Regions from separate parts of the Homo sapiens genome. Here region 1 is linked to region 2. The links come from fine-mapping of genetic effects on gene expression. A gene starts in region 2. The other region holds a variant in brackets. All regions are shown on one strand. Distances are from middle to middle.

Region 1 (5,383 bases), 70 kb before region 2:
AATTTTTTTCAGTATGAGGTCTTCCCTTCCATTTTTGTTAATATATTAATGATTCTTCTTAAATACTGTACCATAATTAGTCTAGATTAACAAATGGGCTATCAAAGCCACTATCTTGTTGGCTAGATAGCGGAACAATTAATTTTCTTGAAGGCTGCTGACACACTGAAGATGGTAATGTACTGCTCAGTTTTTTGAAATCTGACTTTAATCTATCAGCCTTATGACGAGATGGGTGTCCACAATTCACACTGATCTTTCCTGGCTCCAAATACGTGGTTTCTTCTGACAGGTATGGAGTTTGATAACGCTGACATTTCATTGTTTGACAAATCATATTACTTTCCTCTGTATCTGAAAGATAACCGGATGGTGAAAACTGTTTGGATTTAACAGATTCACTTGGTATTTCCAAAGTTCCTTGTGGCCTACCATGTACAAATGATGCTTCACGACTGTCAAAGGATAAGGTTGCACTGCTGGAAGGCCAGCCCAAGCAGTCACTAAGGTCCCCTCCATCTTTTACTGGAGGTTCCTGAACATCCAAACCTTGACTTTTCTCAGATGCAGCATTTTCACTTTCCATTAGTGGATTGCATTTATATACTTTTAAACCAAGTCTTTCATTAGAATCGCGAAAGGTTATATGCATGCATCCTGATTCAGAAGGACCAGGGGTACATCTAGGTGAGGGTTTATTTCCTAAGGTTCCAAGAAAGGGGTATGCAGCTGAATGCGGAAGTGATTCAGAACCATTATCACTGAGTAGGTCTTTCTTCTTGTGCAAACCAAAGCCTCCTTCACCTTCACAAGGAACAAACTCAGGAGAAACATTCCTTGGCAAACTGTTTAGGTGCTTGCAACTACCATCCCCAAACTGGAATTCCAAATGTGTCTCTTTGGATCCCACATGCTTTATGCTCTGATGCTCTGAGTTCTCTAACAGCCTTTGTAAGTTACAAGCTGCCCTCCTCTTGGGAGCTTGTTCGCACAGAGTTCTGGTGATGGTGTTTACACTATTTGATTTGCTTTCAATACAACATGGTATTTTCTGATTCACATCATTTCTTTTTGATTTTTTAACTGCAATCAGCATCTCTGAAGTTAGGGGCAGTGCTATTATGTGCAAGGAAACACGAAATTAAGAGAAAATTAATATTTAAAGGGAAGATTCATCCTTGAACAAAAAAATAAAAAAAATTAAAAATAAGAAAAAATTTATGTTTTTATACTGTATTCCCAAAGAATGCTTATATACTGTAATAATTCTTAAAGAAAATACATCAATGCTGGACATTTAAAAATATTCTTTTACATATATCCACTAGATAAAGCTTGGTAATTTTGTTACTAAGATCTGATATATAATTATTATTGCTATCCATCTGACCTATCATTTTCTGCAATAGATGTTATAGCAATTTCAAGATCCAGCCACAATGTTTTCAATCCTGCCCTGATTCTGATGTTAAGAATGGAGTTTCTGACAAGTTCGCTCAAAGAACCCCACCCACCCAATACCTACACATACACTTCTAGAATAGCTAAATAGACTTTCTGATTTAATTACCTAAGACACTAAATCTGATCAAAGACAAAGCAGCCACATAGCATGAAATTAGAGGCATTGTATCTCAGAGTAGCAAGCCCTAGAGTCCATGAAAAGGATTTGCTTCTCTACTGGGGACATTATTTGCACACTGTTGCCCCAGATCTAGAAAATTATTTTCTTGTTATATGTTACTGCCTTTTCATACCTAAGGTTCACATCACCATTCCAAAATTTATACAAATAATCTTTGGCTTGTACATGAGGAATGTTTACCAACATCAGACTCATGGACCCCTGAACAATCTCAGCTTCAAGTTTTCCAGAGGTTCAAGAACCCCATTTCCCCACTGATATGTTAAAAATCTCTCAGTGTGATTGGGAATTTACCAGTCTTTTTCATGTATTTCTATCAGCTCTTGCTTTATATAAAGCTGTATGATCTACAGAAAGAAAACAATTACAGTTTCTTGGGAGACTATTCCATTATCATTATGAACTATCAGCTTTGTCCCTTTTAATGCTAACTCTAATTTATCTAATCTTTTATTTACCTCTATAATTTATCTAATATCAACACTGCATTTGCTTGGTATATCATTCTCCATCCCCTGATTTTTAATTTTAGATGTTCTTCTTGTAAAAATAGCAAATTTCCACATTTTTAAAAACCCTATTTGAAAGTTGTGGTCTTTTAATAACTTATATGAGTTTAACCTACTTATATTTAGTGTGATTGTTGATGTTTCAAACTACTATTATGTCCTACTTACCCACGCTCTCTAGGTTTTTTTCCTCTTTCCTGATTTTGTTAGATTGAAAATGTTTTTTTCCAAGTTTTTCCTTTACCAGTTTTAAAGTTATACGTTCTATGTTTTTGTTGGTTACTCTTACTTTTTTTTTTTTTTTTTTTTTTTTTTTTGAGACAGGGTCTGCTCTGTTTCCCAGGCTGGAGTGCAGTGGTGCGATCACAGCTCACTGCAGCCTTGACCTCCCGGACTCAAGTGATCCTCCCATCTCAGCCTCCCAAGGCAAGTCGGCTCCCAGTTCCTGCTTGATATGGCTAGCCACCTGGAGCACTGCCCTGCTCCCAGATTCTTTGTTCCTGTTGTTGTTGCCCAGCTCAATATTGAGGTTGGGGAAAGGAGGGGAGAAGAAGAAATAAAGAGAGGATTAACCCCACCTGGTTGCTGTTGGTTTAGAACACCA[A/G]CTAATTACCCCATTCATATCCCCTAGGCCCTCTATTTCTCCTGGAACATATCACCCTCATATGTGGAACAGTTTTGATATTGCTCCTAATTGCAATAGTCATCTCCCGGTGGTTTTGAACTGAGGTTTCCATCTTCCATCCTATACTGTCTTCTTTCTCTCAGGGATTTCTTGTAGCTTCTGGTCTATCCACTGCAAACTTTTTTTTTTTTTTTTTGAGACAGGGCCTCACTCTGTCACCCAGGCTGGAGTACAGTGGCACAATCATAGCTTACTGCAACCTCAAATTCCTGGGATCAAGGGATCCTCCCACCTCAGCCTCCCAAAGTGCTGGGATTACAGGTGTGAGCCATGATGCCTGGCCCACTGCAACTTTTTAAAACCCACTTATAATTTCTTCTTTTTCTCATTCTTTATTTGCTGTTTAAAATCTTTTCTATCATTTCGAGGGATGGAAGCAGCAATAGGAAACTGATGGGCATGCTCAGTCTGCCTACTTAAATTGGAAACTGTGTACTCTTTTTGCGTAAACTTCTAGTTTAAGTAAAACATACAAAACTTCACAAATTAACTCTCACTCCTTACCTTCCCTGCCTTCTTCATACTGAAAATATTAAATAGCTAAAGAAGAAAAGATAGAAAAACCATTTGGCGACTCACTTTGACATACCTGACTGTGTAGTTTTGCTTTGGGACTTACTAGAAATAGGTGTTTCCAGTAATTTTGCCATTGTAGCAAGTTTGCTAGCAGCATTCATAATCTTTTTCTCAGCCCTGTGGGGAATTCCAGAATATTAAAAATATAGTTTAAAGGAAAAAATGAGTTGCCTTAGCCCCATGGTTTCTGTTTTCCTATTGGCTCTGCCAACATTTAGGGTAGCACAGCCATAAACCTCTCTTAACCCCCTATGGCTGATCATGTAGAAATAGTTAATTTAGTGGTTAAGGAAAATGCTTTAAAAATGATAACATGTTGTCCTGGTAATCTCAGGACACATTGTTCAGACTGAACTCACCCTTCTTTTCCATCATCCTGCAAAATCTGTTGGAGGCAAATCAAATAATATTTGCGCATCTTTCGGGCGGTTTCTTGACGTTCTCGCAGTACCTCTGCTTTTACCATTTCTGCAGCTCGTTCCTTACTCTCCTGAATATAACGAAGCATGTCACCTATAGGGAAGTGAGAAAATGCCCACAGAATGTATGTTTATTAGCACTTTTTCAGAAACAGGAGGGGCAGACTTCAGATCAATTTTCTGGTAGATGAAGTGATTTTAAGTATAGTTTAAACATTATACTTTCCACAGTCATTAAAATGGAATATTTTAGATCATCATTTTGGTAGACTCAAATGAGAAGTACTCTATAAGTTCTTTCGGAATGATGACAGCTACATATAGTAAGGAAACATGGCATATTCCCCAGCTAAATTTTGTCATATTCTAAAACACTTAGCGAAGAAAATACTGTAAATATGAGGTACAGAAACTTAGTATTTCAATTGTACATTATGTCCAGTTAGGAAAAGAGAAAAATAAAATATAGAGAAAAGGTTAAGCAGAAAGAAAGGAAAAAGCAAACACAAAGACAGAAGAAAAGGAGGCAGTATGAGCTGGAGAGACTCATTCTTCTCTAGTGCTCTGAAAATTTACGTTCCATTATTTATTGAAAATTCTTTCAGCAGCACTTTTTGAGCATCTAACTAAATATAATATTACAATTCATAAGAGATATGTACAAAATGAGACTACAAGGAGGGTGATGGGACTTATAGTTGGCCTCTGAAATTTACATATAAACATAGCCCACAGCTTTCAAGTTTTTTTTTTTAACTCAATATATCTTTGATTAGGACTACTATTAGCTAAGGCTAACTTTTATTTTTTTTTTTAATAAATCCAAGACTACATCCTACATCTAGAATTTCACCATCTCTGTTATATTAAGGATACCAATTCATACAGGAATCTTCCTGTTAATGTCAGTAAGCATCTGAAAATTAGTGGTTCTATGCAAAAATACTAACTGGGAGACTGTTTTTCATTATTTGAAATGGAAAATGAAATGCAGTACATGTCAAAACAAAACCTCCAACCAACTTTCTAAAAAATAACTAAAACATAATATACACACATACATACAAGTTATCACATTAGGATGAAAACATGCTTAAAATTCCACTTCCCAATTAATACATTATTAACAAAAAGTTGCGTTGCTTGTAGCAATATGCCCTTTATTAGCACCAGTAACAACGGAGAAGCAAATTCCCTTATAAATACCGAATGAGCTTTGTAGAACATCTACACGTGATTCTGAATCTACCAATTATATTTGAAACTTCAGACTTTTCCTGCTCTTTTTGTTAAAAAGAAATGTAATTTTAGGAAGTTAATATACATTTTTCCTATATAAACACTACTTATTGTTTTGGGACATATATCCATTCTATGCATATTAGAATTAGAAACCAAGAAGTATTCAAAACAGGGAAAACACACATCAGGAGAATGCTCTACAGGATATGCTGGCACAACCTGGTACTGACAAGGACTTGATAAATTTATAGCTATGAGAAATAATAACCAGAAACAACAGAACAATTGCTAACTAGATCCACTTCTA
Region 2 (5,383 bases):
CAATTAGTTTGAAAAGATGCTTAAGCTCGTGATGTTTCAAAGAAGTGTCATTTAAACAATATGCCATTTTCAACCACTAGATTGAAAAAACAAACAAACAAAAAAAAAACTTGTTATCACCCAGTGGTGACTATTTTGTATTTTGTATGGCTCATGAGTTGCTGGTGAAAATATCAACTGCTAAACCATCTTGAAAACTATCAATATTAATATATTGAAAATTAACATTTACACTAGTAAAATTATTTTGAATTAATTTGTCAATACTATGCCACTAGTAAAAATACTGAAAATTTTCTATATCTATTGACTCAAGGCTGACCACTTGAGAAATCAAGATGCAGATTAAGTATACAGTATGTTTTGGTTTTCTTCTTCAATAGCAGTCTGGTAGACTTTCTTCCTAGATAACTTTTTCTGAACCCTTAACAAGACTATAAAAAGTATGTCTTGTTGTTACACTCAGATGGATGCTCTGACCCAGCATTCCTTTTGTTGTCCCCGGTTGTTTTCTCTGCCCTCCTTGCAACAAAAGCAATGGGTATTTGGACAAAAGATTACAAAGCAAAAGTAGCATTGTTTTTGCTTCATCTAATAAACTATAAGCACCCTGAAGGCAGAATTAAAATGTATCTGCCTGCTTGCACATGGTGGGTACATAACAAATATTTGTTGACTGAATATGATATAGGCATGTTACCTTATACGAATTCATTACTTCAATAAAATTTTATTGAATACCCACTGTGTTCCAGATCATATCCTAGATGCACCTAAGACATGGTACCAGCCATGAGGAGCTCACTGTCTCTGCTCACCCTCTCTTAGATAGAGCCACTGATATAAACAGTTACAATAACATATTGTAATAAATTCCGTAGTAGATGAAAGTACAAAGCACAAATTACTTTTCCTAAGAAGAAAGGATAGTTTAGAGAAGTTTTACAGAAAAAAAAGAGCTTTTAGATTAGAAATAAATCTTAAAGGACACAATATGGCTATAAGTGGTTCTAAGAATGAGGGCACTCATTCAGACAACCTGGGCTCAATTCTGGCTCTTCTATTTATCAGCAGTGCAATCTTGAGCAAACTGTTTCTGCTTCTACGTTAAAGAAATGGGGGTAAAAATAATACCTACTTCAAAGATTGATTCTGAGGATTCACAAGATACTACATGTAAAGTAATTAGCACTATGTACCAATCAATACATTGTAGTTTTATTACTATTATGACATTATTACTGATGAATAGGAGTCTGCCAGCTACCGAAGAGGTTTAGGGAATAAAGAGGATTCCGCATATCTGAGAAAAGGTGAATGTGCAGCCTATGAGAAATGTCACTTCTAATAATGCAACCTCCTATGGAACAAAAATGCCACCCTCCTTCAAGATGCCCTCCCAAGCCTGTTCCCCCATGGAGCTGGCCACTCCTTTGCACTTTCAGACTGTATTTCTTATGCTTTTCTTATGGCTTCAACTTCAGCTTCTCTTTAGTTGAGTGCATTCACCTGTCTAGGGAGTGCATGTTCATTGTCACGCACTATGAAGGTATAAGGTGATAATAGGCTTAAATCAGACTCAAGTTCATGACTACGATATAGGAAGGGTTATAAACCCCCACAAAAGGGGTTTCTAAGAACTGCACTTGGAGTTGGGAAATTCTACTTACTTGCTGACATAACTCGCCTTCTAGAATGGAAATAGCCAGAGCACATAGCCCGGTTTAGACTTGCAACACCTGGTGGAGACACCTTATTCATTCATTCGACAATTTACCAAGCACTGTTCAAGATTACAAAGTTTAACAGGACACGATGAAGGGAAAGAAAATAGACATATAAACAAATGATCACAACATCTTGTGATCAGTGCTAATAACAGCACTTTGGACAAATTGATTCAAGTTGCCCAGAGGGCGGAGCGAGTAATGCTAATACACAATAAGCATCCACAGGCTGAGCGAATGACCTTGAGGAACTGTTTGGCGTCAGCTACGGCACTACAAACATGACCAAAGCCGCACGGGGCCCAGGATGCCCGGGGCTACTGGCTTCGGGTGCCAGCGTCACTTGTACTCGGTCAACACACGTGCACAGAGCACCTACTGTGAGCCAGGCGTGACGCCAGGGTGACCAAGGCGGGGTCCGCAGAGTAGGGTCTCAGGGCGACCCCAGCAGCCTGGAAACGAGGCGGGCTTCCCATATGTCACTTCTAAGTAGGATATTGGAGGAATGAAGAGGTCTAAATGACACGTTAAGGTAAAAGCTGAGCCCGCAACATGCGGGCAGTCCACCACCGCGGGATTTGGGGAGGGGGCAGGTCAGCCCCCCCAGGAACCCTCAGCCAGCATCCCGAGGACCCCGCAACTCCTCTAACCCCAGGTCCAAGCTCACCCGTGAATCAGAACTTACCGGAGGCCACGGAGGCTGTTACCGCGAGGAAACTCTAGTCCTGGCGGAAGACCAACTTCTAGCAGATCCCCTTACCCTGGCTCTAGTCCACTAGCTCCTTCCTAGTCACAACCGAACTCACGGGGCGGAGGCCCTTAAGGAGCACTCGCATCCTTCAATCGCCGACTAGAAGCTCGCCCGGTGGGCGGAGCCGTGCCAGCTCAGGGCAGAGCGAGGAGGCAGAAGTCTCCGCCTTCCTCAAGCTTGGTTGAGAAGTCCACCTGCAGTTGCAAAGTACGGCTGTTTGAAAGCGGGCGCCAGAGGTGGCGGGAAGCTCCCCCTGTGCGCCCATTGGTGGATTCGAGAGCCAATTACGAGGAAGTCACCCCGGAGTGGGCGGGCTGATCGGTTGCCTAGAGACGCCGAGGCGCTTCACCCGCTACCTTCGGCCAGGGTGCAGCAGTCTTACGGGGACCCCTTGCCCGTTTGGTACCGGAGACTGCAAAGGTGACTCGTGCCTCCTGCGCTTCAGCACACAGAATCCCGCAGATTCCCCACCGAACTCTTGCCTTAGAGGTTTTTTACATTTGCCCTTGTTTTCTAAGGCGCCTGCTTCCCCATTATTTAACAGCCTTAGATATTTTGCTTTGTCTTCTACCTTACTAGGTGCCGCTTTGTTTACATTTTTGCTTCTTTAATTACTGATAAGATGGCACATTTTTCCACGTGTCTATTTACTACTCTAATTTCCTCGGGTGTGAGTGTTCTTGTCACTTAGGTGTATATTATTAACCTGCCCCTAAAGACAGCGCCACCCAGTCCTCAGTAAAGCCCAGTACTGTGTCTATCTTCTCTGGCTGAAAGGGTTCCAGTGAATAATCAAGGAATTGGTGGCGGCAGGTTCACATATCCTTTCAACCCTTTCCCATGTGTACTGGCACGGAGTAAAATGGTTGTTCGAGGCTCTTCATACTGTGGCTGGTTTTCCTTTGCTACTTCACCGTCCGCCCCCATGATGCCTACACTGACCCCTGTAACCCCATAAACTGGTATAGGGTTTGGCAAACAACAGGTAATTTAACCCACTGTAATAGAATGAACGAAATCACAGCCTGAGCTAACAATGGTTCCCAGAGCGCTTTTTTTCTTTCACCTGCTGTGAAAGCTGTTTCTTTCACCTGCATCGCCTCTACCTTCTCCTGCTACTTAGTTTTGAAGACAGACTAGCACCTCCTTTGAAGCCTTTCATGACACACACTCCCTCACTTCGCAAAAATGATCTTTCCTACCTCTGTACACAGTGTATCCTATATATCCTATTATAGTTCTTTTATCTACTGTAAGTTTTTGTGTGTCTTACACTCAGTACAACGTGAATATCTTGAAGTACTCACTTTACTTCTTGGGTGTCTAACATGACCCTGGTAGGCACTCAAAACAATTATGTTAAATGAGTAAATGAATAAATGAACAAATAGATGAAGATTTTGGCAGGGGGGCAGGCAGAAAAAGCAAATAAAAGGCCTTCAAGTAAATGGCATTTGTTGAATCTGAGCCAAGGCATCTTAGTGAGAATTAAATGCACTTTTCACTTTTCACATCCCACTGAAGTCGATTGGCAAACTGTATGTTGCATTCTGTGCTGAGGGTTATGATGGAGTGCTGCAGCAAGAATGCCAGGTGATCCCCATGCACAAACAACTGCTTCTTAGAAGGATGAAAGCATAAAACGTGTCAGGGTAAGCACATGAGGAGGCAGTGTTTATAATCCATTACACAGTGCTTTACAGATTGGTAAATTCTTTCACAAGCATCATCTCATTTGGTTCTCACTACAACACTGTGGGGGGTTAGGACAGGTATTCCTACCCATTTTCCAGTTGAAGAAACTTACATAAAAATAAATTAAATGACTTGTCCAAGGCTACACAGCTAATACAAGGCAGACAGAATCTGAAACCAGGTCCTTTATCTCCAAACCCAGAGCTCATCACTACATACAAAATATTTTAGTGAGACTAGCATATACGTGACAAAGAGGGAAAATAAAGAATAAATCAACCTCCCATCCTGCCATGCCTCTAAAAATGGTTTTTGGTGGAGTTATGGATATATTCAACTAAATTTCTTTGACCACCTATCCTGTTTAAGTCCTGGCCTAGGTGCAGGGTAGGACCCCTATGCTCAAGGTACCAACACTCTGAGTTACAAGATGCTTACGTAGAAAGATAAATAATAATAAAAATTGTTTACTAAGTGTAATAAGAGTAGAATAGGCAATAATTCTAGGGAAAGTGAACACCTAAAGATGAATCTATCAAGGCAGGTTCAAGGAAGAAGAGAAGGAGAGAGCTCAACAGGTCAGTTGATTAGCATGAGTGCAATTTAAAGGCCAGACCAGCAAAAGTGCAGGAATCTTACATTTAGATGTAAGTCTGGAGAAGAAGGCAGGAAGGAGGTGGTCCATAGAAGAGCTTTAAGCCTGGGAGAATAGGAAGGGCATTCTACAGAGGTCAGGTAATGGTGTGCACAAGGAATGAATCTAACATCCAAAGAAACACAAGCAGACAGAGGCATTCTGGGATAAGAAAGGCAAGTGTGGGAGAAGAAAGTAAAACTGCCAAAGATCTCAAATGCTGGACAAAAGATTATTTGTGAAACGTTGGCTCGATGTTTACCTTGCATGTTTTAAATGGGCACACCTATGAGCTGGGTGAGACATTTCAAGAGAAAATGTCACATTGTTGATGAGATGGGGTCCCTCCCACTAACAAGCATTTATAAAGGTAAAGCTAAACCATTATTTCTCCTTTTTCCTCCTTTTTGGTGTCAAAGCTATCAGGTCAAAGCAATGTCATCACAGGAGTGCTATCCAAAGTGCTATCATCAAGGAGTACTATCTTCAAAGGAACACAGAACTTAGAGTAAGAAGATCTGAGTTCAAGTCCCAGTTCTCCTACCTACTAGCATTGTCCATAACAATTTAACACTC

Evidence for each region. PIP is the estimated chance that this variant, and not a neighbour inherited with it, causes the effect. A credible set is the group of variants that fine-mapping cannot tell apart.
Region 1: its variant is the best candidate, but not a certain one, in a credible set for the expression of CEP152 in whole blood (TOPMed, PIP 0.67).

What each region holds. Positions count from the first base shown.
Region 1 is chr15:48,738,173-48,743,555 of GRCh38, forward strand. It overlaps CEP152 (centrosomal protein 152), which reads right to left. Exons shown (of 27, transcript NM_001194998.2): 25 at 3,775-3,928; 26 at 3,429-3,532; 27 at 1-1,116. The coding sequence ends at 77. Among named protein-coding and RNA genes, the nearest start is that of CEP152, 70 kb to the right of the region's middle. The variant A/G (reference allele first, on the strand shown) is at 2,759.
Region 2 is chr15:48,808,549-48,813,931 of GRCh38, forward strand. CEP152 (centrosomal protein 152) reads right to left here and starts at 2,521. Exons shown (of 27, transcript NM_001194998.2): 1 at 2,413-2,521. LOC124903487 (a long non-coding RNA gene) reads left to right here and starts at 2,150. Exons shown (of 2, transcript XR_007064626.1): 1 at 2,150-2,259; 2 at 2,383-3,361. RefSeq lists enhancers at 1,671-2,232, 2,891-2,950 and a silencer at 2,525-2,715.